7 linked regions of the Homo sapiens genome follow. The protein of the gene in region 7 purifies or fractionates together with the protein of the main gene of each other region. This does not show direct contact. Each region holds a gene or a part of one and is shown on either strand. Other genes may lie near its edges. The genes, in order: TARBP1, PAPOLA, NIBAN2, EIF2AK4, PTGES3L-AARSD1, GFPT1 and TARS1.

Region 1 (3,500 bases), on a different chromosome or scaffold from region 7:
ACACACCATATATATTCCTTGAATGTCGATACAGGGGAAGATGAGGGGAAATGTAGAGAGGGAACAAGGCATACGCTCCAAGAGTCCTCTCCCAGTGGGCCACCCAGGACACACTTAGCTCCCCCAGCAACAAGCTGTGACAACACAGTGAAAGTCTGTCTACCAGGGAAGCTCAATGGAGACTCAGTGCCTCGGGCTTTTCCTGGGACGTGGTCATGCAGGCACCTTTTGCCTCATACATACTGAAATTCCAGACTCTCAGAAAGAAAGCAGGTTTTCAGCATAAACCACATTGAACAAACACTTTAGATACAATAAGCCACTCTTAGCAGTTAGGATAGTGTAAATCCTCCCAAAATCCAAGGTCCCAGTGCCAGCCAAGGACTATTTAGAGAGATCATATGTATTATTTTATTACAAGCACATTTATTATTTTATTACAAGCAGGCCTTTCTAATGGCAGTATCACAGGTCTGCTATGTTAACTCATTTCTGTACACCCACTCACTAAGAAAGACTTGTAAATGGAAGTAACAAAAGAAAAACTTACCACATCTAGCAAATTCATAGCTGTTTGAAGAAGGTAGCATTGGGCTGCCCCTCTCAGGAGAATCTGATGTGTGATCATAGTGCAATGAATAACATCCCTGACATCGAAACACAAAAAATGCAGTTCCGTATTCCCAAAGACAATTCTGATAATTTGTGATTATCAACAAGTTGATTTATAACAACTACACTTCCTAATGCAGAAAGTCTGCAGAATTTCAAAGCTGTTATTTCCCATTATGGCCTCTATTAAGAGCTCAATTTTACTATGAAACAAGTCTCTTTTAAAAATAAGACTATAGGCCGGGCGCAGTGGCTCACACCTCTAATCCCACAACTTTGAGAGATTGAGGCGGGTAGGTCACCTGAGGTCAGGAGTTTGAGACCAGCCTGGCCAACATGGTGCAATCCCGTCTCTACTAAAAATACAAAAATCAGTCGAGAGTAATGGCGCACACCTTTAATCCCAGCTACTTAGGAGGCTAAGACACGAGAATCGCTTGAATCCAGAAGGCAGAGGTTGCAGTGAGCCGAGATCGCACCACTGCACTCCAGCCTGGGTGACAGAGCGAGACTCCAGCTCAAAAAAAAAAAACTATAAATGAAGATGCTTTTAAAGAAGTTTATATTTACTGAAATACTTTTTCTTTTTTTCATCTCCTCAAAATTCCTTTTTACCAAATATTTTTTAAATACTTTCTGTTAAATATTATTGTTTGATATTTTATCTTTAGCTTTCTACTTACGAATGTAATTTTAAAAAAAACTTACTGGCCTTATTTAAAGAGGTCAAAATTCAACAGCACATACTTCAGTACACATTTAAACTAGTAATTTGTAAAACAAAATAAGTTCAACTATACGAATAATACATTTTTTAATTTTTTTCTTATGTAAAATTAAGAGCCCAAACATCCCAATCCCAATATTAACTATATCCATTTACTGTAGATTAAAGCAGAGGAGAAAATATATATATTGATGGAAAGTCATGGCAAATAACCATACAAGTACATATACAGAGTAAATTACCTGAGAGCAAGAAGCCCATCTATACCCAGGGCCTTATGTCTTGGGACATTTGCCAAAGCCTTAGATAGAAACAAAATGGGAACAGCACACCAATGCCTACTTGTCATCTTCCGAATAAACTTCAATAGGAAGCTACCTGAAAGAAAAAGTTTTAAATTATCATTGTTGCCAATTAGCACATGAAAAGAAGCTCAATACCATTAGGTATTAGGGAAATACAAGTCAAAACCATAGTAAGGCTCCACTTCCCACACACTATGATGGCTATAATCTAAAGGACAGACAATACTCAGAGTTGGGGAGGATGTGGAGAACCCAGAACCCTCACACAATGCTGGTGGGAATGTAAAACGGTGCAGCCGCTGTGGAAAAAAATATGGCAGTTCCTCCAAAACTTAGACGGACCACATGATCCGGTAATTCTACTTCCAGGTATATATCCAAGAGAATCAAAGATGTGTTCATACAGAAACTTGTACATGAACATTCATAACAGCATTACTCAAATAGTCAAAAGTGAAAACAATCCAAATGCCTACCAATGAATGAATGAACAAAATGTGAAATATCTATACAGTGAAATACTATTCAGCCACAAAAAGGAATGAAATGCTGATACGTGCCATAACAAGGATAAACCTTGAAAATACTATGCTAGTGAAAGAAGCCAGACACAAAAAGCCACGTATTGTATGATTCCACTGACATGAAATGTTGAGAATATGCAAATCTATAGAGACAAAGAGGATCAGTGGCTGCCAGGAGCTATGGGTAGAAGAGAATGAGAAGCGACTATTAACACACCTGAGGTTTCTTTTTGAGGGTGATCAAAATATTCAGGAATTAGACAGTGGTAACAGCTGTACAACTTTGTGAATACACTAAACACCACTAAACCAAATGGTTTAAAAGGGTGAATTCTATCTCAATAAAGCTGTTGTAAAAAAAAGTTAATTTAATTCCTAGTTTAGTAAGATAAGTATTCTACTGTACTATAGGGATTCTGATACCCATGAAGCTGTATTTTTTTAAAAGGTAATTTTTTGTTTGTTTGTTTGTTTTGAGACAGAGTCTCACTCTGTTGCCCAGGCTGAAGTGCAGTGGCTTGATCTTGGCTTACTACTACAACCTCCACCTCCTGGGTTCAAGTGATTCTCCTGCCTCAGCCTCCTGAGTAGCTGGGATTACAGGCATGTGCCACCACACCCGGCTAATTTTTGTATTTTTAGTAGAGACGGGGTTTGGCCATGTTGGCTGGCTGGTCTCAAACTCCCAACCTCAGGTGATCTGCCCACCTCAGCCTCCCAAAGTGCTGAGACTACAGGCGTCAGCCACCACACCCGGCCAGTAAAAGATAAAATTGTTTATGATTAGAAGCCATTCTTCTATTTGAGATGTGAAGGAAAAACAGGATAGGAAGTATTGATGGTTAGTGGCCTCTAGTATATGCAAACAGTAACATCTTTCTCATAGGCTGTTTCTTGACTACCTTGGATTTAATTACGATTATTTATATTTCTATTTTGAGATACAAAGGGATAGTGCTTCATTCTGTCCTCTCTGCTAATCTGTGATTTCTTAAGGACCCTCATCTCATGTAGTTAGTGAAAATGTCTGTTTTCTCACATAGTTGTAGAATGACTTTCAAGAAATCCTCAGAAGCTACTAAAAGGATATTACGCGGACTTTGTGTCTTTTGAAATACCTAGCACAAAAGACATTCAGAACACCCAGAAGATATTCACTGGAAACTGGTGACTGAAAAATGACTAAATAACTGTGAATGAATGTTTTAATTGCTCTTTTTGAACTCCTGGCCTCAATTTTTCTTTCTTCCATTTGCACTAACTAAATTCAGTAAATCCCATCTTTTGCCTAACGCTTCACTCATGACACTAGGAAGATGGCAATGGCCAAGT
Region 2 (3,500 bases), on a different chromosome or scaffold from region 7:
ATATCCATCATAGAAATCTGGATAATTTGGGAGAAGGGGGAGAATTTCCAATTTTTCCACAAGGAAAGAAAGTTAAAAGCCTTCAATAGATTTCAATTTCTAGGGAAAAAAAATGAGTCTTTTACATTTTGGGGAAAAAAAAATTTCTTCCACCCCATCTACACCTCATTCAAGCCCCATGTACCCCAGGTTCTAGCCAAAACCTTACGCCAAAAACTGCTTCTATAATCATAACAAATTCTCAACCCAAAGAGACAGATCATGATCTCAGCCCGGACTATCAAAAATCCTATGTATCCTTTGAGGACCACTTCAAATGCTACTTCTTTCTTCAATGAAGACATGTACTGCTATTTCTGCAGTCAGAAATAACATCTTACTTTTCTTGCCCCGTGGCCCCCAGCCCTCAATTACTTTTTCTTTGATAATGTAATTAATTACATTCATGACTTATCTTGTCTACTTAATTATAAGCTCCTTTAAAGGCACAGAATGTGTTTCACTCATCACAATATTCCCTTCAGTGTTCAGCATTACATAATTAACAGTAATAAACAATACTAAAAAAATCTAAAACCTATAGCACAAAAATACAATATTTTAGAGACATTTCTATTACATCTTCTGTACTCTTAATTGTGTATGTATTCTAAAGGCTAAATTAGTATACCTTTGCTTCTGTTTTATCATGTCCACTCAAAGCAAGACAGTTAGCATCTTCACTTGTTTCATCCTGTTTTTAAAAAAAAAAGCTTTATTCTCTAAAATGAAAAATTTAGATTATTTGCCAATCAATGCTTTACTTTATAAACTTTAAAACTATAAAATAATTAAACCTGTAAGATCAACTACAGCCTTAAAATAGATAACTGGTCCCTCTTTTAAAATGTTTTTATCAGATTAAATTTGGCTTCAGTAGCTAATAAAATTAAAAAGAGCATTAGGAAAACTGTTACTGCAGATCACCACCTAAAGTACATTTCCAAAACCACTAAGAGTTCATAGAAATATATTTTGTAAGGAAAAGAAAAAAAAAAAAGAGTTCCTGATCATACAACTTTAGGAACTTGGCATAGTATCACCCCCATTCTGGGAGATTCACACAGAGTGGCACATAAAAGGTTCTAATAAATTCTATCAAGAAAGAACTCCACTTTAATTTTCCCAAGCTTAACCAGAGAATCCTTGCTCTTGGTACGACCTACTAACATCCTACAGAATACAAGACTTGAGAAATGCCTTGCTTGGGTCTTAATAACTATTTTGACACTATTTTCTCAGCAGAATTAAAATTTAATTTTAAATGTGACTTTTAAAACAGGCATAGAAAAACCACAGGCTTATAGCTTAGAAGAGATTTAATACAGTATCGATCAATTCCAATAAGGACTTTATTTGTACCCTGCAAATATGCAAACTTTAAAAATAGTAATGTGTCACAATTGGCCAAATCTGAATACTGACTGATATGTAAAACTATGGATTATTAATATTTGTGTGACAAATATACGGTACTTATATTTTATAGAAGTCCTTATTTTTAGATATACAAAGAAATGTTTTTGGTTGTTATGCCTGGGGTTTGCTTCAAAACAATGGGGAAGGAAGTGATGTGGGTATGTAGATAAAACAAGGCTGGCTGTGAGTTGTTAACTGTTGAAGCTAGGTGATGCAAACATGACAGTTCATTATACTTATGACATGTTTGAAATTTTCCATACAGAAAGTTTTAAATATATACATATATACACATATATATATATACATATATATATGTGTGTGTGTATATATATATATATAGAGAGAGAGAGAGAGAGAGAGAGAGAGAGAGGTTAATTTAGCTATAATCCAGGAAATAGAGCAAACATTTTCGATTTTTATTTTACATTACCATTTATATTTATTTGAAAAACCTTAGGATATGATGACCATTAAGCAGAACTAAACTACCTCAGAGTATCTAAAACTTTCCTATCTATATACACGTTAGTGCATTACTGAGTGAGGCCAGTATTTCTTTCTGCTTTGCTAAAATTTCTAATACCAAGTACTCATTAGCAGAGAATAAAAGACCCAATTAAGAAGGGCTTCAAAATCAGGATTACTTCTACCACAGCAAATTTCTTTTGACTAAAGCACCATGAGATTTAGGCCTGGGTTCTAATCCTGCCTCTAACTGTAACTAGATCCGTAACTGGAAAAGCCACTAAACAGCAAGTTCTTCTGGTAGGAAATGAGATTAGCCCATGGAATAACCTAATACCCCTTATCTTCTTAAAATGCTATAGTTCTATTAATCAACTCCGTAGAAATACTGTAAGCAAAATCCAGACTGAGAAAACATACACCAAAAAAAAAAAAAAAATTACAGGGAAAAGTGGGGGAGGGATGGAGGAGGGAATCTATATTTTAAAGGACACTTAGAGATATCAAACAATTGCAACACAGGGATCTTTTTCTGCTTCCAGATTTAAACAAACAGCCTATTTTTTAAAAAATCAATGAAACAATCAGGGGCCATTTGAGCACTGACTAGATGTTTGATGATATTAATAAATTGTTAATTTTTGTGAGTAGGCTAATTTTACTGTTAATGCTTTCATTCTTAGATATGATTTTTAAGATTCTAATGAAACATGTTTGGATTTTGCTTTTAAGTAATTCAATGGCAAGAGAAAATGAAAAAGGCTGAAAGAATTAAGATTACAAAGATTGGCTGAGAGTTAATTATAACAGAAGCTGTGTGATGGGTACACAGGTACATAAAATGACTCTTTTATATGTATTTTTAATTTTCCATACTTAAGTTTAAAAATTCTATATTCTTATTGCTTTTCTAAACCAGACAAGAAACACAAGTGTTATTCTACCAAGGTAAGTGCAAACAAAATTGCAAAATACTGCACTAGTACAAACTTATTTAGAGCTCTTAGGGTGCCATTTTTAACATAAAGAAAACCAAATGTTAAATGCATAGAATTATGCTTAAATACACTTTACTAATGTCAAAAGAAATTTGAGTTCTGAAATGCCGTGACAACTTCAAACCAGTATCAGTAGTCTGAATGTGTAATTGACACAAAAATTGAGTATATTCTTTAGCTGCTGCACAACCCAATCATGTGGCAGCAGGGCTCTTAATAGGATCTCCAGGCCTAACTTCTAGAAGATCTCTGATTCAGTTTGGAGAAAGCCCTAAAATCTTTATTGAAAAACAACAACAACAAAAAAAACCCCAAAAACTAATTCTGTTGTACAACCAATGATGAAAATCACTGCCCTAAGAGATAATTACACAGACACAGATGAGTTTTCAGAACACATCTTCTAAGTTATGATTATTTACAGTGGGCCCTCCATATCTGTGGAATCCATATCTGCGAATTCAACCAACCATGGATCAAAAATACTTAGAAAAATAAAAAATAATACAACAATAAAAATGACACAAATTAAAAAATACATCATAACAACAATTTAAACAGCATTTACATTGTATT
Region 3 (3,500 bases), on a different chromosome or scaffold from region 7:
GCAGCTGGTGCGGTGCCCTCAGCCCTGGTGCCAATTCAGCTGCTCTGCCCACAGATCTCGGACGCCGTGTACCACATGGTGTACGAGCAGGCCAAGGCGCGCTTCGAGGAGGTGCTGTCCAAGGTGCAGCAGGTGCAGCCGGCCATGCAGGCCGTCATCCGAACTGACATGGACCAAATTATCACCTCCAAGGAGCACCTTGCCAGCAAGATCCGAGGTAGGCAGCCACCCCCGTGCTCGACGGGCCCTCCAGGGGCCAAGGTGGACTTTCTTTTTATTTCATGATTCATGTAAATTTCACAGCAATGACTTGCTCATTGATCATTTGTAAGAATTAGAGCCAAATCTGCACTGTGGTACTCCAACCCCTGTGAGTTGTTTTGTGGCTATTATTTCTATAAGCCCAGAACTTGAAGAGAAAAATTTTTGTTCTGGAGGTTCAAGCCTTCTTTTCATCTCTGACTCGTCACAGATTTTTACCATGTGTCATTTTAAAGTACATTTACGTTCAGCAAGTATAGCTTTCCCAGGTCAGTTTATTCTGTCACCCAGGCTGGAATGTAGTGGTGCGATCTCAGCTCACCACAACCTCCGCCTCCCGGATTCAAACAATTCTCCTGCCTCAGCCTCCTGAGTAGCTGGGACTACAGGCACACGCGCGCCACCATGCCCGGCTAACTTTTGTGTATTTAGTAGTGATGGGGTTTCACCATGTTGGCCAGGCTGATCTTGAACTCCTGACCTCGTGATCCGCTCACCTTGGCCTCCCAAAGTCCTGGGATTACAGGCATGAGCCACTGTGCCCAGACTGTACGCCTTTCTCTTCCCAGCCAGATGGGATCCTTTCACCAGCTTGGTCCCCATAACACATCTGCAGAGCTCAGTTTTAGCAATTGTCAGTTGCCCATGGGACGTTCTTTTTATTTTATTTTATTTCATTTTATTTTATTTGAGACAGGGTTTCACTCTGTCGCCCAGGCTGCAGTGCAATGGCACGACCTTGGCTCACTGCAGTCTCTACCATCCTCCCACTTCAACCCCCCAAGTAGCTGGGACTACAGGCATGTGCCACCACGCCCAGCACATTTTTGTATTTTTTGTAGAGACAGGGTTTTGCCATGTTGCCCAGGCTGGTCTCAAATGCCTGAGCTCAAGCAATCCACCCACCTTGGCTTCCCAAAGTGCTAGGATTACAGATGTGAGCGACTGTGCCCAGCCATTATTATTATTATTATTTTGAGATGGAGTCTTGATCTGTTGCCCAGGCTGGAGTGCAGTGGCACAATCTGGGCTCACTGCAACCTTGCCTCTCGGGTTCAAGCAATTCTCCTGCCTCAGCCCCTCAAGTAGCTGGGATTACAGGCACCTGCTACCATGCCCAGCTAATTTTTGTATTTTTAGTAGAGACAGGGTTTTGCCATGTTGGCCAGGCTGGTCTTGAATTCTTAACCTCAAGTGATCCACCTGCCTCGGCCTCCCAAAGTGCTGGGATTACAGGTGTGAGCCACTGTGCCTGGCCTGTTTTTTTTGTTTGTTTTTTTTTTTTTTTTTTTGAGACGGAGTCTCGCTCTGTCGCCCAGGCTGGAGTGCAGTGGCGTGATCTCGGCTCACTGCAAGCTCCACCTCCCGGGTTCACACCATTCTCCTGCCTCAGCCTCCTGAGTAGCTGGGACTACAGGCGCCCGCCACCATGCCTACCTAATTTTTTGTATTTTTTAGTACAGACAAGGTTTCACCGTGTTAGCCAGGATGGTCTCGATCTCCTGACCTCATGATCCGCCCACCTCGGCATCCCAAAATGCTGGGATTATAGGCGTGAGCCACCGCGCCTGGCCGCCCGGCCTGTTTTTTAAGAGACAGAGTCTCGCTCTGTCTTCCAGGTAGAGAGCAGTGGTACAATCATGGTTCACTGCGTGACCTCCTGAGCTCAAGTAGTCCTCCCACCTCAGCCTCCTGCGTAACTGGGACTACAGGTGCAGGCCACCACGCCTGGCTAATTTTTAAATTGTTTGTAGAGAAAGGGGTCTTGGCTGGGCAAAACTCTATCTCTTTTAAAAATTTTTGAAAGAGAGAGAGAGAAGGGGGTCTTACTGTGTTGCCCAGGCTGGTCTCGAACTCCTGGCCTCAGACAATCCTCCTGCCTCAGCCTCCCAAAGCACTGGGATTACAGGCATGAGTGGCCGTGCCTGGTCTCCTGTAGGTTATTCTTTACTAGCCAGATCCTGAGTATTGGTTGACAGCTGGATAGGACACTGAGCATTGACATTTCTTGTGTGGAACAAAGAACGTTAGCTGGGCTGGGATGGGGGTGGACATCTAAATATTCTTGAGTGAAAATGCTTTGGTCAGAATGTTCTGGAGATGGTCCCCACCCAAAGGAAGAAGGCTTTTACATAATTATGCAGAGCCAGCCACACTATTCCAGAGAGGATCAGCCCAGTTTTTGTAAAACCAAGAGGCTCATTGAATCTACTAAGGTATTTTTCATTGCTGTTGTTCTTTTTGTTCAAACGAAGAAGCAAGACCCATCCTAAAGGAGTTTTTGTCTACTTCTAGCTAAGCAGAACACTGCTGACACCTCTGGGCTGGCAGTTTTCTTATTTTATTTTATTTTCATTTTCATTTTTAATTTTTGTGGGTACATAGTAGGTGTGCATATTTATGGGGTACATGAGATGTTTTGATCAGGCATGCAATGTGTAATAGTCACATCATGGGAAATGGGGTATCTATCCCCTCAAGCATTTATCCTTTGTGTTACAAACAATCCAAGTATATTCTTTTAGTTTTTTTTTTTTTTTTTGGACACAGAGTCTCACTCTTCTTGCCCAGGCTGGAGTGCAGTGGTGCCATCTCAGCTCACCGCAACCCCTGCCTCCCAGGCTCAAGTGATTCTTCTGTCTCAGCCTCCCAAGTAGCTGGGATTACAGGCACATACCACCACGCCCGGCTAATTTTTGTATTTTTAGTAGAAATGGGATTTCACCATGTTGGCCAGGCTGGTCTCAAACTCCTGACGTCAAGTGATCTTCCTGCCTCGGCCTCCCAAAGTGCTGGGATTACAGGCCTGAGCCACTGCACCTGTGCAGCCTCTTTTAGTTACTTTTAAGTGTACAATTAAATTATTATTGATTATAGTCACCCTGTTGCGCTATCAAATACTAGGGCTTATTCATTCTGTAACCAGAAAGGGGTCCCGATCCAGACCCCGAGAGAGGGTTCTTGGATCTTGGGCAAGAAAGAATTCAAGGTGAGTCCATAGAGTTAAAGCAAGTTTATTAAGAAAGCGAAGGAATAAAAGAATGGCTACTGCGTAGACAGAGCACGAGGGCTGCTGGTTGCCCATTTTTATGGTTATTTCTGATGACATGCTAAACAAGGGGTGGATTATTCATGCCTCCCTTTTTAGATAGAGCATATAGGGAGACTTCCTGACGTTGCCATGGCATCTGTAACCTGTCATGGTGCTGGCGGGAGTGTAGCAGTGAGGACGACCGAGG
Region 4 (3,500 bases), on a different chromosome or scaffold from region 7:
AGTGTATAAGGTGTCTGTGTGTTTTGTGTAGCTTCAGAGTTACATTGAAATTACCAGGCACAGACTTAGTCTTGTCATTTTGTTTACACATTGGGGAAAACAAATCAGTTTGTTAAACGTTTCATGTAACTGCACCGAAGTTTTGCCAACCTGGAAACTTGGATCTTTTCTGTGTAGTGACTTTTTAATTATAGTTTTCACAACCTGGAGATCAGACTGTTGCTTTCACATGATGTATGTAGTGTCTCACGACTGAAGTTTGCTTTGTTTTATAGTATCTGTACTCGTATTTTTCAAAAGCTATTTTGTCAACAGATGATGTATTTCTCCATTGAAAACACAACTAAAAAAACAGCACAATCTCAAAAAAAAATTATGAGATTTTTTGTGATTTTTTTGTTTGTTTAGCTTATCAGCTATCATTAGTGTTAGTATATTTTATGTGTGGCCCAAGACAATTCTTCTACCAGTGTAGCCAAGGGAAGACAAAAGCTTGGACACCCCTGCATTATAGGATCACGATACACAGTGTGAAAACACTGTTCTAGAGGATGGTCTATGAAAATAAGGAATCAAGATTAATTGACGTGGGACAGACCAAGGTAACTCCATGATGAGGTAACTCCATAAATGCAAATCTAGTTCATTAATTTGCATTCAATTCTTATCCCCAACCATATAAAGTTTCCCAAACCCTTAGAAAACTGTTTTCATCACATACAAAAATGCAGTGTCTCAACTGACTCCTCTCTTCTAAAAGGAGGTATGTTTTACTATGTGGATAAATAAAGAAGGTCTATAAATAAACACAGGTAGAATATATTTTAAATGAATAATCATCTTTTAAAATTTATGGTTTCTATATCTGAATATCAGATTAAAGCCTTAATACTTTACCTAAGGTTTATGACATCAGACGTCAATTATATCACGAATAAAATGATATAATTTCTATTCATATATATACCTGATTCTGACTTTTACTGTTCTCATCTTCATTGTCAAAGATAATATCACTTTCAGAATCTGAAGCAGGCCTGAAAAAGGGAAACAGAAATACTAAAGGAACAGAAATCCCTATTATCATTATAAACATGGACATTTTTAAATACTAGAAAGCACAAGAGGCTACAGACATCACACCATGAGCCCACAGGCATCAATGTATACTCTACACTGTGCTGATTTGTACTTGCTATTATGCAAAACACAGAACCCTTGATTTAATAAAAATTAGCCAGATTAAGTTTCCTCAAAAAATTTAATAGTGAAGAGTAATCATAAACTGTATCCACTTGGATAAAATAAAACAAAATCATGAAAGTAAACATCCAGGGTGGATTCTGAGAAGCATAAAATTTAGGATCATAATTATTGGTTTGGTACCTTTGGGGGCTGCAGTTGGCACTGTATCAAGACTCCAAATTAGTTCTTAAATGTTTCACAGGGTTGCAAGCCCTTATCCAAAGGAATGTCCTATGAGAAATTCTATTCAATGTATAAGATGAGGTATTGAATTTTCCTTTTTCCATGGCTTGGATTTTGGAGATCTTTTGAAAATAGCGGGAAAAAAAATCCTTTAGATTAGGGGTCCCAAACCTCCAGGCCATGGACAGGTACAGGTCCACTGCCTGTTAGGGCCGCACAGCCGGAGGTGAGCAAGCATTAAGGCCTGAGCTCCACCTCCTGTCAGATCAGCAGCCGCATTAGATTCTCATAGGAGCGCAAACACTATTGTGAACTGTGCACACGAGGGATCCAGGTTGTGCGCTTTTTCAGCAGTCATTATGAGACTCTAATGCCTGATGATGTAAGGTGGAACAGTTTCATCCCGAAACTATTTCCCTAACACCCGTCTGTGGAAAAATTGTCTTCTATGAAACCAGTCCCTGGTGCCTAAAAACGCTGGGGACCGCTCCTTTAGATTGCATTTGGTTACTCTCTAAAAGTGGTGGTTTTGTTTTGTTTTTGTTTTTGTTTTTAAACATGGTCAACACGTCTGGATTTCTAAATGAATCCCCTTTTCCCTGGCTTGGACTTGGTGGGGATTAATGTTGGGGGGCATTCGCTGGCCCGGGAGGCGGATGTTGCAGCCAAGGACGCGCCACTGACCTCCAGCCTGGGTGACAGAGCAAGACCCTATCTCAAAAAAGGAAAGAAAGAAAAGAAGGAAAGAAGGAAGGAAGGAAATGAAAGGAAAAAGGAAAAAAAAATAAAGAAAGGAAACTAGGGGGCGCATCAGAGGCAGCTGGTCCGCGCCGTGCGCTTACAGGAAGGACTGGGAGAAGACGCCACCGTGCTCGTCCTCGTCGTCGTCCTCGTCATCGCTGGAGCCCGGGCCGGTGGCGGGGAAACGGGCACTGGCCGAGCGCTCGCCCGAAGTGCTCCACTCCACCGAGCTGCTGAGGATGGGTGGCGGCGCGGCGGCCTCTACGCTGTCCAGGCCGTCTGTGTCGCTCGCCGGCTGCCCGCGTGCAGCTCGGTCATCCTTGGCCAGGGGCCCGGAGTCCGGGGGCGGCGTCCCCGGTCCCGCCGGCCGCTCGTGCCGCTCGATCCAGGCGTTGTAGTAGCGCACAATGTTCTCATGGTGCAGCCGTGACAGCAGTGTCACTTCGCCCTTGATCCTGCGGAACTGCCGGCTGGCCGGGTTGATGGGGATGCGCTTCACTGCGTAGCAGCAGCCGTCCAACTTGTTCTGCACCTGCGGCACAGCCAGGGGAAGGTCAGCCGCTCGGAGCCTTGCACAAACAGGCATTTGCACCGCACCCCATCCCCTCCCAAGGAAAGCGTGAAGTTCTAAATGAGTCCCACAGCTACAGTCAAGAACCACATGCCTGAAATTCTTAAACTGAAGAAAGCTTTGACTGCCACAAAATTCAGAAAACAGCCCACCCGACTCTAGATATATTTAGCTTGCTGGGAGACCCTGGGGAAAACATAATCTCCATTTTAATAATTAATTTTACTGACAGTTACCTCCCTGCTTTTCCAATGTATCTGCTATCTAAATTTCTAAGTGTCTTGATTTTAAGATTAAAAATTATTTTCTAAAGTCAGTGTAAAGTTTCAGATGATTTTAGTTTCTCTCTGATTTTTTTTTACACTTAAAGTCACTAAAAACAAATTAAACACCAAAAATATTAACAGACCTGAACACAAAGGTTAATTCCTTGATTTCTAAAGCCGTGTGAACTTGGGAAAATTACTTAATTTCCTTGAGACTCAATTTTCTTATCTTTAAAATGGCATTTATACCATTTCCACTACCCCAAATGGTGACTGTAAAGCACTTGTATCAAGGCCTCACAGAGAAAGGTGCTTAGCTTAGTCAATAACAGCAATTGCTATTAACACAATCACTGCCCATTGATTTTGTTATATACCTAAGATGATGTATACTGAAACCAGAACAATACAATTAACAACACAGTAAAATAATAAGAAAGCAAGAAAACGTTGCAAAGGCAAGTCCTCCCATCCTACATAGAGGCATCCTTATG
Region 5 (4,040 bases), on a different chromosome or scaffold from region 7:
CCTGCACGGTGGCACACGCCTGTAGTCCTGAGGCTGAGGCGGGAGGATGGCTTGAGACCAGGAGTTCGAGACCAGCCTGGGCAACATACCAAGACCCTCCCGTCTCTTAAAAAGGAAAAATTCCAACATTAGGAAATTTATCTAATCAAGAGTTGTGTTTATTTCAGTTACTAAGAGACCCTGCTGTTAATCCAAACTCCCACCCAAAGAAGTGTAAAGACTGCCTAGATTTCAGGAAAGCAGGGACAGGGAGTTAACCTAAATTTCCACGGATTCCAACTCACTTTCCTTTCCTTTGCCAATTTTCCCAATCCCCAGAGTCGGGGTCCTCTAGCAGCCAAAGTGTTCAAGACTGAGATACGTGAGGGAAAGGTGAGTGGGCGCAGCACTGCTCTTGGCTGCTCTGCTGCCCTCTCAACGACTCACTTCGCTCACCGCTCCTCTACCACTCACGTCATCACGCACCGACATCTCTCCACATCCTCCGTGCACACCGCTCACCCTCAGGTTCCCAGGCCTCTGTCCTCTTGCCCTTCAGCCGGCCCCGCACTCCAGTCCCCTGGTCTCCGACACACGTACTCACCGACCGAGTCGGGGAGGCTTCTCCCCGCATGCACCATCATCCGGGTCTGGATCGCCACCCACACGACCCCACTATTCCCATATTCCTCGCGGCCCGGCTCCAGCCACTCACCTGGTCCTCGCCCCGCAACCATGGCCGGTCCCCTGGCAGCCCATCGCCCTCATCGCTGGCGGGGTCGCCGGGCCCTTCGTAACCTAGGACGTGAGGGCAGCCGCGGAAGGCGAAGTCTTCGAGCTCCCGCAGAAGGCGCTGCTGCTCCGCCGGCGCCCCGCGCACCACCTGGCGCAGGCGGAACTGCACCTGCGCGAAGTGCGAGGACAGCGCCAGCAGCGCCGAGTCCAGCCGCCGCCGCTCTGCCCGCAGCCGCCGCAGCGTCCGGCCCGGCGAATCCGGCGGGGAGCCCGGGGCCGCGCCAGGCTCCTCGGCCGTCGCCTCTTCTAAAAACGCGGTTGCCCCAGGCCGGGCCTCCGCCACCGCCCCCACTGGGGCCCAGCGCACCGCCTCGCACGGTGGCAGCGGCTCCTCTTCCTCCTCCTCTTCGTCTTTCGCCTTTGGCCCAACAGCCGCCACCACCGTTACCGGCTCTGCAGCCGCTTCGACAGCCGCCATCTTCCCGGAAACACCACCGCACGTCAGCCGCGCCCCCCTGCTGCCATGGCAACGGCGCGGTGGCCTGGAACCCCAGGGGAGTGGTGGGCGGGGCCTGAAGTACCCAAGTCCCCGAGGGCGCGCCTTCCCCGGGAATTTAATTCAGGACAATAATGTTTTATTGAGCGCCTATTGTGAATCAGACACTGAGCAGTAAGCGTCGGAGAAACAGGTGAATGATACCGGGGAAAAGTCATTCCCTGTGTGTAGCGTCTAGGGCAGCCTTTGCCCTGGTTCCAGCAGATGGGTTGTCTCTTCATAGTCTATGCATTTCTGAAGACCCCACGGTGAAGGGCTGCAAGGATGAAGCTGTCCCAGAGTATCTCCAGAGTGCAGATCCCTTGGCTGCCAGGTCATGTTCTCTCTTCCTCTCAACTGCTCTCCCGACCATATAAGGAGAGGCAGCTGCTGGGGGCGTCCCCAGGATCTAAAGATAGCGGCCCCTGCCTGGAACTCTAAATGCCACCCTGGAGCGGGAGCCGCAATGGCACGGTGAGTGTTTCCGGCTCCGGTGCTCCCCCTGGCCCTTTTCCCTGGAGATTCCCTGCTCCAAGTCTTCTGGGCGCTCCAGGTTCTGTGAGGCCCCACGGGAGCCCCGGACCCCTGGTCTCTGTAACTGTGGGGTGAGGGAAGGTGTGACCTGAATGTTCTCCCTGACCTCCTAGTTTCCTAGTCTTGCACGTTCTATTCTTCCCAGGTTCACATTCACCACACCCACCCACTCCTGTCATTCCCTTCCCTTTCACCCCTTCTGTCTCATTTAGCTCCACTTTGAAAAAACTGTGGCATCAAAGGTCCCTGGGTAGTCCCTTCCCAAATGACCTCAGTCTTCCCTCTCCCACCCCTATGAAGCCACACCTCAACTTCTCTTCAGGCAGCACGCCCGGACCTTGTGGTACGACAGGCCCAGGTATGTGTTCATGGAGTTTTGTGTTGAGGACAGCACCGATGTCCACGTGCTTATTGAGGATCACCGCATTGTGTTCAGGTAGTGGCCCTGCCGTCCGAGGGCCTGGCTTCCCAGGAATCTACCCCTTTCCTAATGTCCCCACACGGAGTATTCCGCATCTCCTCAGCTTCATTGTCTCCTCAGCTGCAAGAATGCCGATGGAGTGGAGTTGTACAATGAGATTGAGTTCTATGCCAAAGTGAACTCCAAGGTAAGGGTGAAATGGGACAGTAAGGTTTGGATGGAAACCGGGCTGCCCAGGGAAACTGGAGATTAATTCTAAACCCCAGACCCTAAGAATGAGGCTCTCTATCTGGCAGGACTCCCAGGATAAGCGCTCTTCCCGCTCTATTACTTGTTTTGTGAGAAAATGGAAGGAAAAGGTGGCCTGGCCGCGGCTTACCAAGGAGGATATCAAGGTGGGTGTGTGGAAAGTGGCCTGCTTCTTCTCTCCATGTACCCAGGTTACAGCTGGGATTGTCCTTGCCTCCTTTCCAGCCAATATTCAATCACTCAACAAGTCCTGCCTAATCTTTTTTTTCCAACTGTATTAGTCTCTCTTTTTATTTTTATTTATTTATTTATTTTGAGACGGAGTTTCACTCTTGTTGCCCAGGCTGGAGTGCAGTGGCGTGATCTCAGCTCACCATGGCCTCCGCCTCCCGGGTTCAAGCAATTCTCCTGCCTCAGCCTCCTGGGTAGCTGGGATTACAGGCATGCACCACCACGCCCAGCTAATTTTGTATTTTTAGTAGAGATGGGGTTTCTCCTTGTTGCTCAGGCTGGTCTCGAACTCCCGACTTCAGGTGATCTGCCCGCCTCGGCCTCCCAAAGTGCTGGGATTACAGGCGTGAGCCACCGCGCCTGGCTTATTTTTTAACTTAAAGTTCTGGGATACATGTGCAGAACATGCAGGTTTGTTACATAGGTATACGTGTGCCATGGTGGTTTGCTGCATCTATCAACCCGTCATGCAGGTTTTAAGTCCTGCATACATTAGCTATTTGTCCTGAGTCTCTTTTTACTCTCTTGGTAATCTCTCCCAGTTAACTTACTTTCGTTGTAGGTGATGAAATGTGTAAGACTCCACTTCAGATATTGGCACTGCTATGAACATGGTCTTTCCCTTTACTGCAACTCACAATCAAAACCTTTGATTCTTTTTGTGTGTGTGTTTGTGTGAGATGGATTCTCACTCCCGTAGCACAGGCTGGAGTGCAGTGGCGCGATCTTGGCCCACTGCAACATCCACTTCCCGGGTTCAAGCGATTCTCCTTCCTCAGCCTCCTGAGTAGCTGGGATTACTGGCTTGTGCCCCCACGCCTGGCTAATTTTTGTATTTTTAGTAGAGACGGGGTTTCACCATATTGGTCAGGCTGGTCTTGAATTCCTGACCTCAGGTGGTCTACCCGCCTCAGCCTCCCAAACTGCTAGGATTACAGGCGTGAGCCAATGTGCCCAGCCATTTCTTTTTCTTTTTTCTTTCTGTTTTTTTTTTTTTTTTTTTTTTTGATTCGGAGTTTCGCTCTTGTTGCCCAGGCTGGAGTGCAATGGCATGATCGCAGCTCACTACACCTCCGCCTCCCAGATTCAAGCGATTCTCCTGCCTCAGTCTCCCGAGTAGCTGTGATTACAGGCATGTGCCACCACACCCAGCTAATTTTGTATTTTTAGTAGAGACAGTGTTTCAACATGTTGGCCAGGCTGGTCTCAAACTCCTGACCACAGGTGATCCACCTGCATCGGCCTCCTAAAGTGCTGGGATTACAGCTGTGAGCCACTGCACCCGGCCTCTGCCAATTCTTGTTTTCTATATTCCAGTCCCAGAAGTAGTTTCCACTGTAGAAATTAATTGATGAG
Region 6 (3,500 bases), on a different chromosome or scaffold from region 7:
GAGTTACGCTAGCTTATTTGAATGACTTACAAAACATGTTTACACGTGTTAACTCATTTACTTTGGAATACAGCCTTTGAGGTTTACATGTGAGGAATCAGATACTTAAGAGTTTTTTTTTTTTTTTTTTTTTGAGATGGAGTCTCTGTCACCCACCCTGGAGTGCAGTGGCACAATCTTGGCTCACTGCAACCTCTGCCTCCTGGGTTCAGGCAATTTTCCTGCCTCAGCCTCCCAAGTAGCTGGGATTACAGGCACACTCCACCACGCCTGGCTAATTTTGTATTTTTGGTAGAGATGGGGTTTCATGTTGGCCAGGCTGGTGTCGAACTCCTGACCTGAAGTGATCCACCTGCCTCAACCCCCCAAAGTTCTGGGATTACAGGCATGAGCCACCCCGCCTGGCCCAGATACTTAGAGCTTTAAGAAGACCAAGGTCATAGATCTCATATTGGGCAGAACCAAGACCAGAACTGAGGTCTTGGTCTCCACATCCTGTCTTCTTTTAGTTAACATATGCTGTTCCTTTTTAATTTAATACTTCTAAAACATTTAAAAATGTATTTTAAAATATTTTTAAATATATATTTCAGCTGGTTGCAGTGGCACATGACTGTAGTCCCAGCTACTCTGGGGACTGAGGCAGGAGGATCACTTGAGTCCAGGAGTTTGAATACAGCCTGGGTAGCATAGTGAGACCCTGTCTCTAAAACAGTAAATAAAATAAATTAAAAAAAATTACACACACGCGATATATTTCAGGGGAAATCTAACATCTAGGTTTTATTTTAATATTATATAATTGAGTTTTCTTCAGATCAGTTGGCTTTATATATAAATTCCAAAAGATATTATTCCCTAAGCACAATGTGGTGGTAATGAACTTGAGCTTTGAAGTTAGGCAAACCTGCAGTCAAGTACTAAGCCTGGTATTTCTTAGTTGCATGAGTTTAAACAAATTACTGGATCCCATAACGCTTCTGTTTCCTCGACTATAAGTAATAACAATCAGATTTACTACACAGGAATTTAAAGAAGTCTGTCCGTGAGGCTTCATATGGATTATGCAGTGCAATTTTTGCACATTCGTAAGCTATAGCCCTGCCTTTGCCCACCAGTGATGTTGTGTATGTGTGTGATTTTCTTTCCTAGGGGCGGCCTGTGGTAATTTGTGATAAGGAGGATACTGAGACCATTAAGAACACAAAAAGAACGATCAAGGTGCCCCACTCAGTGGACTGCTTGCAGGGCATTCTCAGCGTGATCCCTTTACAGTTGCTGGCTTTCCACCTTGCTGTGCTGAGAGGCTATGATGTAAGTCATCTACCACTGCAGAAATCTTGGGATGGTTTTTTACCTGGATACATTCTGATTTTTTTCTCCTAAATTTTTAACAATAGTGTTTGAGAAATCTATCAAATATATATCTGTCACCTGTTATATTTTCATGGCCCAATTTGTAGGTTACATCACAACATCTTCTTACCCATAGAACTTGAAGGAACCTTGGGGTTCACCTCCAAGATTGTGACTCACCTTGGGTAGTCTCCACCTGTTTTCTTAATATAACCTCTATCTCTTAACAGGGCAGCTATTGGCATTTGGCAGGACAATTCTTTTTTGTTTGGAACTGTCCCACACATTGAAGACTTTGTAGCATTCCTGGTTTCTCAGCCATTGTGGCAACCAAAACATAGTGCTTTTGTTTTTAGTGTCCCCTATGAGGGCTACTACTTCTGTAGAGGACCACAGTAGCTCTTTCTGTGTGAACTGGCACCTTTAGAATGCTTTTTCCTAACCAATTTCAGTTTTTTTCAGGACACATTATGTGATTATATTTTCTAATCTAATTCTTTGTAGTCTGTAATAAAGATGGTTAATGAATGTATTGTTTTCTGTTTTTATAAACAAAAATAATTTGCTTATAGTAACCACCCCCTTCCCCAGTCTATATAATCTCTCAAATCTTGCTTTTTTTTTTTTTCTTTTTGCAGGTTGATTTCCCACGGAATCTTGCCAAATCTGTGACTGTAGAGTGAGGAATATCTATACAAAATGTACGAAACTGTATGATTAAGCAACACAAGACACCTTTTGTATTTAAAACCTTGATTTAAAATATCACCCCTTGAAGCCTTTTTTTAGTAAATCCTTATTTATATATCAGTTATAATTATTCCACTCAATATGTGATTTTTGTGAAGTTACCTCTTACATTTTCCCAGTAATTTGTGGAGGACTTTGAATAATGGAATCTATATTGGAATCTGTATCAGAAAGATTCTAGCTATTATTTTCTTTAAAGAATGCTGGGTGTTGCATTTCTGGACCCTCCACTTCAATCTGAGAAGACAATATGTTTCTAAAAATTGGTACTTGTTTCACCATACTTCATTCAGACCAGTGAAAGAGTAGTGCATTTAATTGGAGTATCTAAAGCCAGTGGCAGTGTATGCTCATACTTGGACAGTTAGGGAAGGGTTTGCCAAGTTTTAAGAGAAGATGTGATTTATTTTGAAATTTGTTTCTGTTTTGTTTTTAAATCAAACTGTAAAACTTAAAACTGAAAAATTTTATTGGTAGGATTTATATCTAAGTTTGGTTAGCCTTAGTTTCTCAGACTTGTTGTCTATTATCTGTAGGTGGAAGAAATTTAGGAAGCGAAATATTACAGTAGTGCATTGGTGGGTCTCAATCCTTAACATATTTGCACAATTTTATAGCACAAACTTTAAATTCAAGCTGCTTTGGACAACTGACAATATGATTTTAAATTTGAAGATGGGATGTGTACATGTTGGGTATCCTACTACTTTGTGTTTTCATCTCCTAAAAGTGGTTTTTATTTCCTTGTATCTGTAGTCTTTTATTTTTTAAATGACTGCTGAATGACATATTTTATCTTGTTCTTTAAAATCACAACACAGAGCTGCTATTAAATTAATATTGATATATTCAGTATTCTCTTCAACTTTGTCACGAGGAAGAATTTCCTGTAGTTAATTTTAACTTTCCTTCATTACATTGTTGCATAAAACTAGTCCCTTAGTGCCAGTTTGGAAGTTACTTGCAATTGTTTGGAAGATTTGCAGGTCGCTGACCTCATCATTTCACTCTAAGTATATGTGGTAGGCTAAGCTCAGAAAAAGGTATGTATGCTTTACACTGATAGGCACCAAATTTAGTATTGTATCCTAAGTATTTTTCCTCTTCTGTATTTTCTGTGCTCTACCCCTGAAATATATTTAGGAATAAAGAAGATATAAATAAAGTGATATTGGGGTATGTTCAGCTTGTAAGTGTCAGAAATGGAAGTTGACAATTTGGATTAAAATATTTAAAGTAGAATGTTATTATTTGATACCCCCAAAATTGTGAGTAATAATTTCTTAATGGAGCTTTTCTGGCCAGATCTTCAGGGCTATAGGAGAGTGTGTTTGTTTTTGGTGAAGTCCTTCTTTTTCAAAGGTTTTTACTTTTAAATTGTGAAGATAAGCTAT
Region 7 (3,500 bases):
ACTGCCTTGCACCCCTGACTACCTGACATTCCAGCTATGAGGCAGCCAGCAATGATTGATGGGCCCTTCCCTGAGGGCTTTTGGGCACTTGGGGAGGCGGATGTTGGCAAGGAGGTAGGAGGGTGTGTTTCTTTCACCATGACCCAAAGTCAGCCAACTTTACCATCATCTATTTCATTATCAGTGTCTTTTTCCCAGTCTCCTTCCTGATACTCTTACTAAGAAAATAAATACATACATAAATAAAATGAAAAAAGATCCAGATCTTGGAGCTTTAAGGAATTTAAGAACCATGAGAGGTACTGCAGTGGATAGTTAAAGAACTGAAGGGACCCTTATTCCCTGCCACTGTTGGGGAAACTTGACTGGATTGAGGAATATAACAGGCAGGGCATGTGTTACACGTCTGCCAAATTGTAAATCAGCTGCAATTCTATAACATCAGAAACACTGACATGGTTTCTTTGATTCAGGAGTGGCACTGATTGAAATATGGGACATCATGACCATATTCTGAGCTCAAGAACACTGAAATTTATGTATATATACACACACGTATACGTGACGTACATAAACATTCTTTTGCTTTTCTTTTACCCAGGACCAAGAACTATATTTCTTTCATGAACTCAGCCCTGGAAGTTGCTTTTTTCTGCCAAAAGGAGCCTACATTTATAATGCACTTATTGAATTCATTAGGGTAAGTCATATTTATTGCTTTCTTCTTTAGATTTAGGATATGTGATCATTTTATTAAATAAGGTCTACTAAAAGGAAAGATAATCTGTATTTGAGAAGAAATATATAAGACGATAAGTAAAAGTAGAAGTCTGTGGCCTCATAAATCATCCCTAATAGTTGATTTTGCCCATATACACATAGAAACTGGTGAGCTTGAAGGGGGACCTGTGGTCCTTGACATAGGAGCTCTGTGCCCTCTTTGACTTTGATCATTTATTTGTATTTTCTTTGAAAAAACGGTTTTTACATTGCTTTTTTCCTTTGTAAATTATGAAATGTTTCAAGTATAAGTTTATAGAGAATAGTATATCCAATATCTTGTACTTAACTACCCACATTTAACAAATATTCACATTGGGCTATATTTGCTTGAGATTTTTTCATTCATGATATTAAAAAAAAAATTAGTTGTTTAAAAAGCCTCTCTTTAGGACCCAGTTTTGATCCATATACCTCCATATACTGGTATATATATCCATATACTGGTATATCATATACCAGTTTTCTAGAAGAAACTACTGTTTTGAAGTTGGCATGGATTCTTTTTGTCCATGTTACTTATATCTAGCCCATGTATTTGTACCCTTAAATTATTTATGTATTTGTGTGTTACATATAGGAAGCCTCATTGTGTATCAGACTGCCTTGTGATTTATTTTTAGAGACATGCAAATCAAGTTTATTTTCACTTGCTACATATTATTTTGTTATATAACTACCACAATGCACTCATCCCTGTATTGATGGACACTGATGTATAATTGTCCCTTATTATCAGCCATGCTGCAGTAGCATCACTTTTATAAGCCTCCTTAGGTACATGTGCCAAGAGTTTTCTCTCTGGTATATACTTAGAAGTGGGATTTCTGAATCATGGCATGTGTCCATCTTTTTCATGAGAGAGTATAAAATCACTCTTTAAGTTTTTACTCCCACTTGAAGTATGAGCATTTATTTGCCTACACATGTTTCTGTTTATTTTCTATCAGAGCGAATATAGGAAAAGAGGATTCCAGGAGGTAGTCACCCCAAACATCTTCAACAGCCGACTCTGGATGACCTCGGGCCACTGGCAGCACTACAGCGAGAACATGTTCTCCTTTGAGGTGGAGAAGGAGCTGTTTGCCCTGAAACCCATGAACTGCCCAGGACACTGGTATTCGGCAGCTTTGAATTTCTACTGAAGATTTTCACATGCTACAATTCATCCTGGGTTCTTCCCTCCTTTAACAACATTTTCATTAAAAACAAATTATGTGATCAGAAGAGCATTTAAACGCAACATCTTTGTATTATATCTTCTGCACCTGATTAGATCCCCACTTTTTTTTTTTTTTTTTTTAAAGAGGTCTTCCAACTGGAGTGCAGGTATGCGATTATAGCTCACTGCAGCTGGGACTGCAGGTATATGCCACCATGCCCAGCTAATTTTTAAAATTTTATTTCTGTAGAGATGAGGTCTTGCCACGTTGCTCAGCCTGGTCTCAAACTCCTGGCCTCAAGCGGTCCTTCAACCTTGGCTTCCCAAAGCGCTGGGATTACAGGCATGAGCCACTGTGCCCAGCCAGATCTCCAGATCTGTGGGCATTCAGTAATGGTACTGGGATCATAGCAATGACCAAGGCAGACTATAAAACAGGAAGATGAAATATGGGGGTGTAACAAATTACCTAGTGTGTTGTTGTTTTAAAGAAACCTGTTCTGTCAAAACCTGCTAATGACTCAGCATTCTTGGAAAATGTTCCTTGTCATGAGGCCGCTCTGCTTTCTATCTTTGAAAGTTGGGTGAAGAACAGCTTAAGGGAAGACACAGGAGAGCTGTGGATACAGGTAGCTTAGTGTCTGCAGCTCCTACTAGCCAGGCCTGGAGGGCAGAGGAGGTGAGAGAAGAATCTTTGTGAAGAAGCTGTATTATAGGCTAGGGGACCAACCAAGTTCATTCTTAATTTTCCCAGATTCTTCAGTTGTTGGAATACGTTTTTTAATTCTTCACTGTGGTTCATTGAGTTATAACTTATTTGCTGTTTTATTCATGCAAGTGCTTTTACTGCTGTATGTAGCCCAGAATTTGAGAAATGTTGCTTGGATGGACAGCTAGAATCAGTGGCTTTTTGACAACCTTTCGTGTAATTAAATATAGCATTACAGAAGCAGTTTTATTCTTAAGTGTCCGTGGACTTTTCTTTTTCTCTTCAGCCTTATGTTTGATCATCGGCCAAGGTCCTGGCGAGAACTGCCTCTGCGGCTAGCTGATTTTGGGGTACTTCATAGGAACGAGCTGTCTGGAGCACTCACAGGACTCACCCGGGTACGAAGATTCCAACAGGATGATGCTCACATATTCTGTGCCATGGAGCAGGTATGAGACCCTGGGAATAAAATACTTAGAAAGAAGAGTCAAGAAAGTCAAGGAAAATAACTACTGTTTCTTTTTTTGTTTTTTAATTTGAAGATTGAAGATGAAATAAAAGGTTGTTTGGATTTTCTACGTACGGTATATAGCGTATTTGGATTTTCTTTTAAACTAAACCTTTCTACTCGCCCGGAAAAATTCCTTGGAGATATCGAAGTATGGGATCAAGCTGAGAAAGTAAGTGGTGTTTTTCAGCGTGCTTTTGAATACTGTTTGAAATTGGCTTGTTCTGAGATGTAAGAAAGCCAAGCCTCTTTAAATGGATAAAAGCAAAATGAAATTGGAAATGGTTCCTAGGTTTGTGTAAGCTAGTTTTTTTCTTTATGATTGTGTATTTTTGAAATGG

The links.
Region 1: the proteins of TARS1 (region 7) and TARBP1 fractionate together in Homo sapiens (co-fractionation; one large-scale study listed by BioGRID). This does not show direct contact.
Region 2: the proteins of TARS1 (region 7) and PAPOLA fractionate together in Homo sapiens (co-fractionation; one large-scale study listed by BioGRID). This does not show direct contact.
Region 3: the proteins of TARS1 (region 7) and NIBAN2 fractionate together in Homo sapiens (co-fractionation; one large-scale study listed by BioGRID). This does not show direct contact.
Region 4: the proteins of TARS1 (region 7) and EIF2AK4 fractionate together in Homo sapiens (co-fractionation; one large-scale study listed by BioGRID). This does not show direct contact.
Region 5: the proteins of TARS1 (region 7) and PTGES3L-AARSD1 fractionate together in Homo sapiens (co-fractionation; one large-scale study listed by BioGRID). This does not show direct contact.
Region 6: the proteins of TARS1 (region 7) and GFPT1 fractionate together in Homo sapiens (co-fractionation; one large-scale study listed by BioGRID). This does not show direct contact.

The regions. Positions count from the first base shown.
Region 1 is NC_000001.11:234,458,680-234,462,179, forward strand, and holds part of TARBP1 (tRNA (guanosine(18)-2'-O)-methyltransferase TARBP1), read right to left. Parts: intron 1,718-3,500; coding exon 1,582-1,717; intron 648-1,581; coding exon 551-647; intron 1-550.
Region 2 is NC_000014.9:96,557,882-96,561,381, reverse strand, and holds part of PAPOLA (poly(A) polymerase alpha), read right to left. Parts: intron 734-3,500; coding exon 671-733; intron 1-670. UniProt on the Homo sapiens protein: Polymerase that creates the 3'-poly(A) tail of mRNA's. Also required for the endoribonucleolytic cleavage reaction at some polyadenylation sites.
Region 3 is NC_000009.12:127,513,574-127,517,073, reverse strand, and holds part of NIBAN2 (protein Niban 2), read left to right. Parts: intron 1-54; coding exon 55-217; intron 218-3,500. UniProt on the Homo sapiens protein: May play a role in apoptosis suppression. May promote melanoma cell invasion in vitro.
Region 4 is NC_000015.10:39,975,615-39,979,114, reverse strand, and holds part of EIF2AK4 (eIF-2-alpha kinase GCN2), read right to left. Parts: intron 2,702-3,500; coding exon 2,271-2,701; intron 1,038-2,270; coding exon 968-1,037; intron 1-967. UniProt on the Homo sapiens protein: Metabolic-stress sensing protein kinase that phosphorylates the alpha subunit of eukaryotic translation initiation factor 2 (EIF2S1/eIF-2-alpha) in response to low amino acid availability.
Region 5 is NC_000017.11:42,977,729-42,981,768, reverse strand, and holds the start of PTGES3L-AARSD1 (PTGES3L-AARSD1 protein), read left to right. Parts: upstream 1-1,240; 5' UTR 1,241-1,586; coding exon 1,587-1,723; intron 1,724-1,756; exon of another isoform or gene 1,757-1,864; intron 1,865-2,105; coding exon 2,106-2,219; intron 2,220-2,324; coding exon 2,325-2,391; intron 2,392-2,500; coding exon 2,501-2,599; intron 2,600-4,040. Other genes in the region: RUNDC1 (RUN domain-containing protein 1), read right to left, coding at 695-1,192; putative protein PTGES3L, read left to right, coding at 1,716-1,723, 2,106-2,219, 2,325-2,391, 2,501-2,599. UniProt on the Homo sapiens protein: Functions in trans to edit the amino acid moiety from incorrectly charged tRNA(Ala).
Region 6 is NC_000002.12:69,324,728-69,328,227, reverse strand, and holds part of GFPT1 (glutamine--fructose-6-phosphate aminotransferase [isomerizing] 1), read left to right. Parts: intron 1-1,152; coding exon 1,153-1,314; intron 1,315-1,994; coding exon 1,995-2,039; 3' UTR 2,040-3,500.
Region 7 is NC_000005.10:33,457,965-33,461,464, forward strand, and holds part of TARS1 (threonine--tRNA ligase 1, cytoplasmic), read left to right. Parts: intron 1-601; coding exon 602-700; intron 701-1,730; coding exon 1,731-1,897; intron 1,898-2,937; coding exon 2,938-3,100; intron 3,101-3,193; coding exon 3,194-3,331; intron 3,332-3,500. UniProt on the Homo sapiens protein: Catalyzes the attachment of threonine to tRNA(Thr) in a two-step reaction: threonine is first activated by ATP to form Thr-AMP and then transferred to the acceptor end of tRNA(Thr).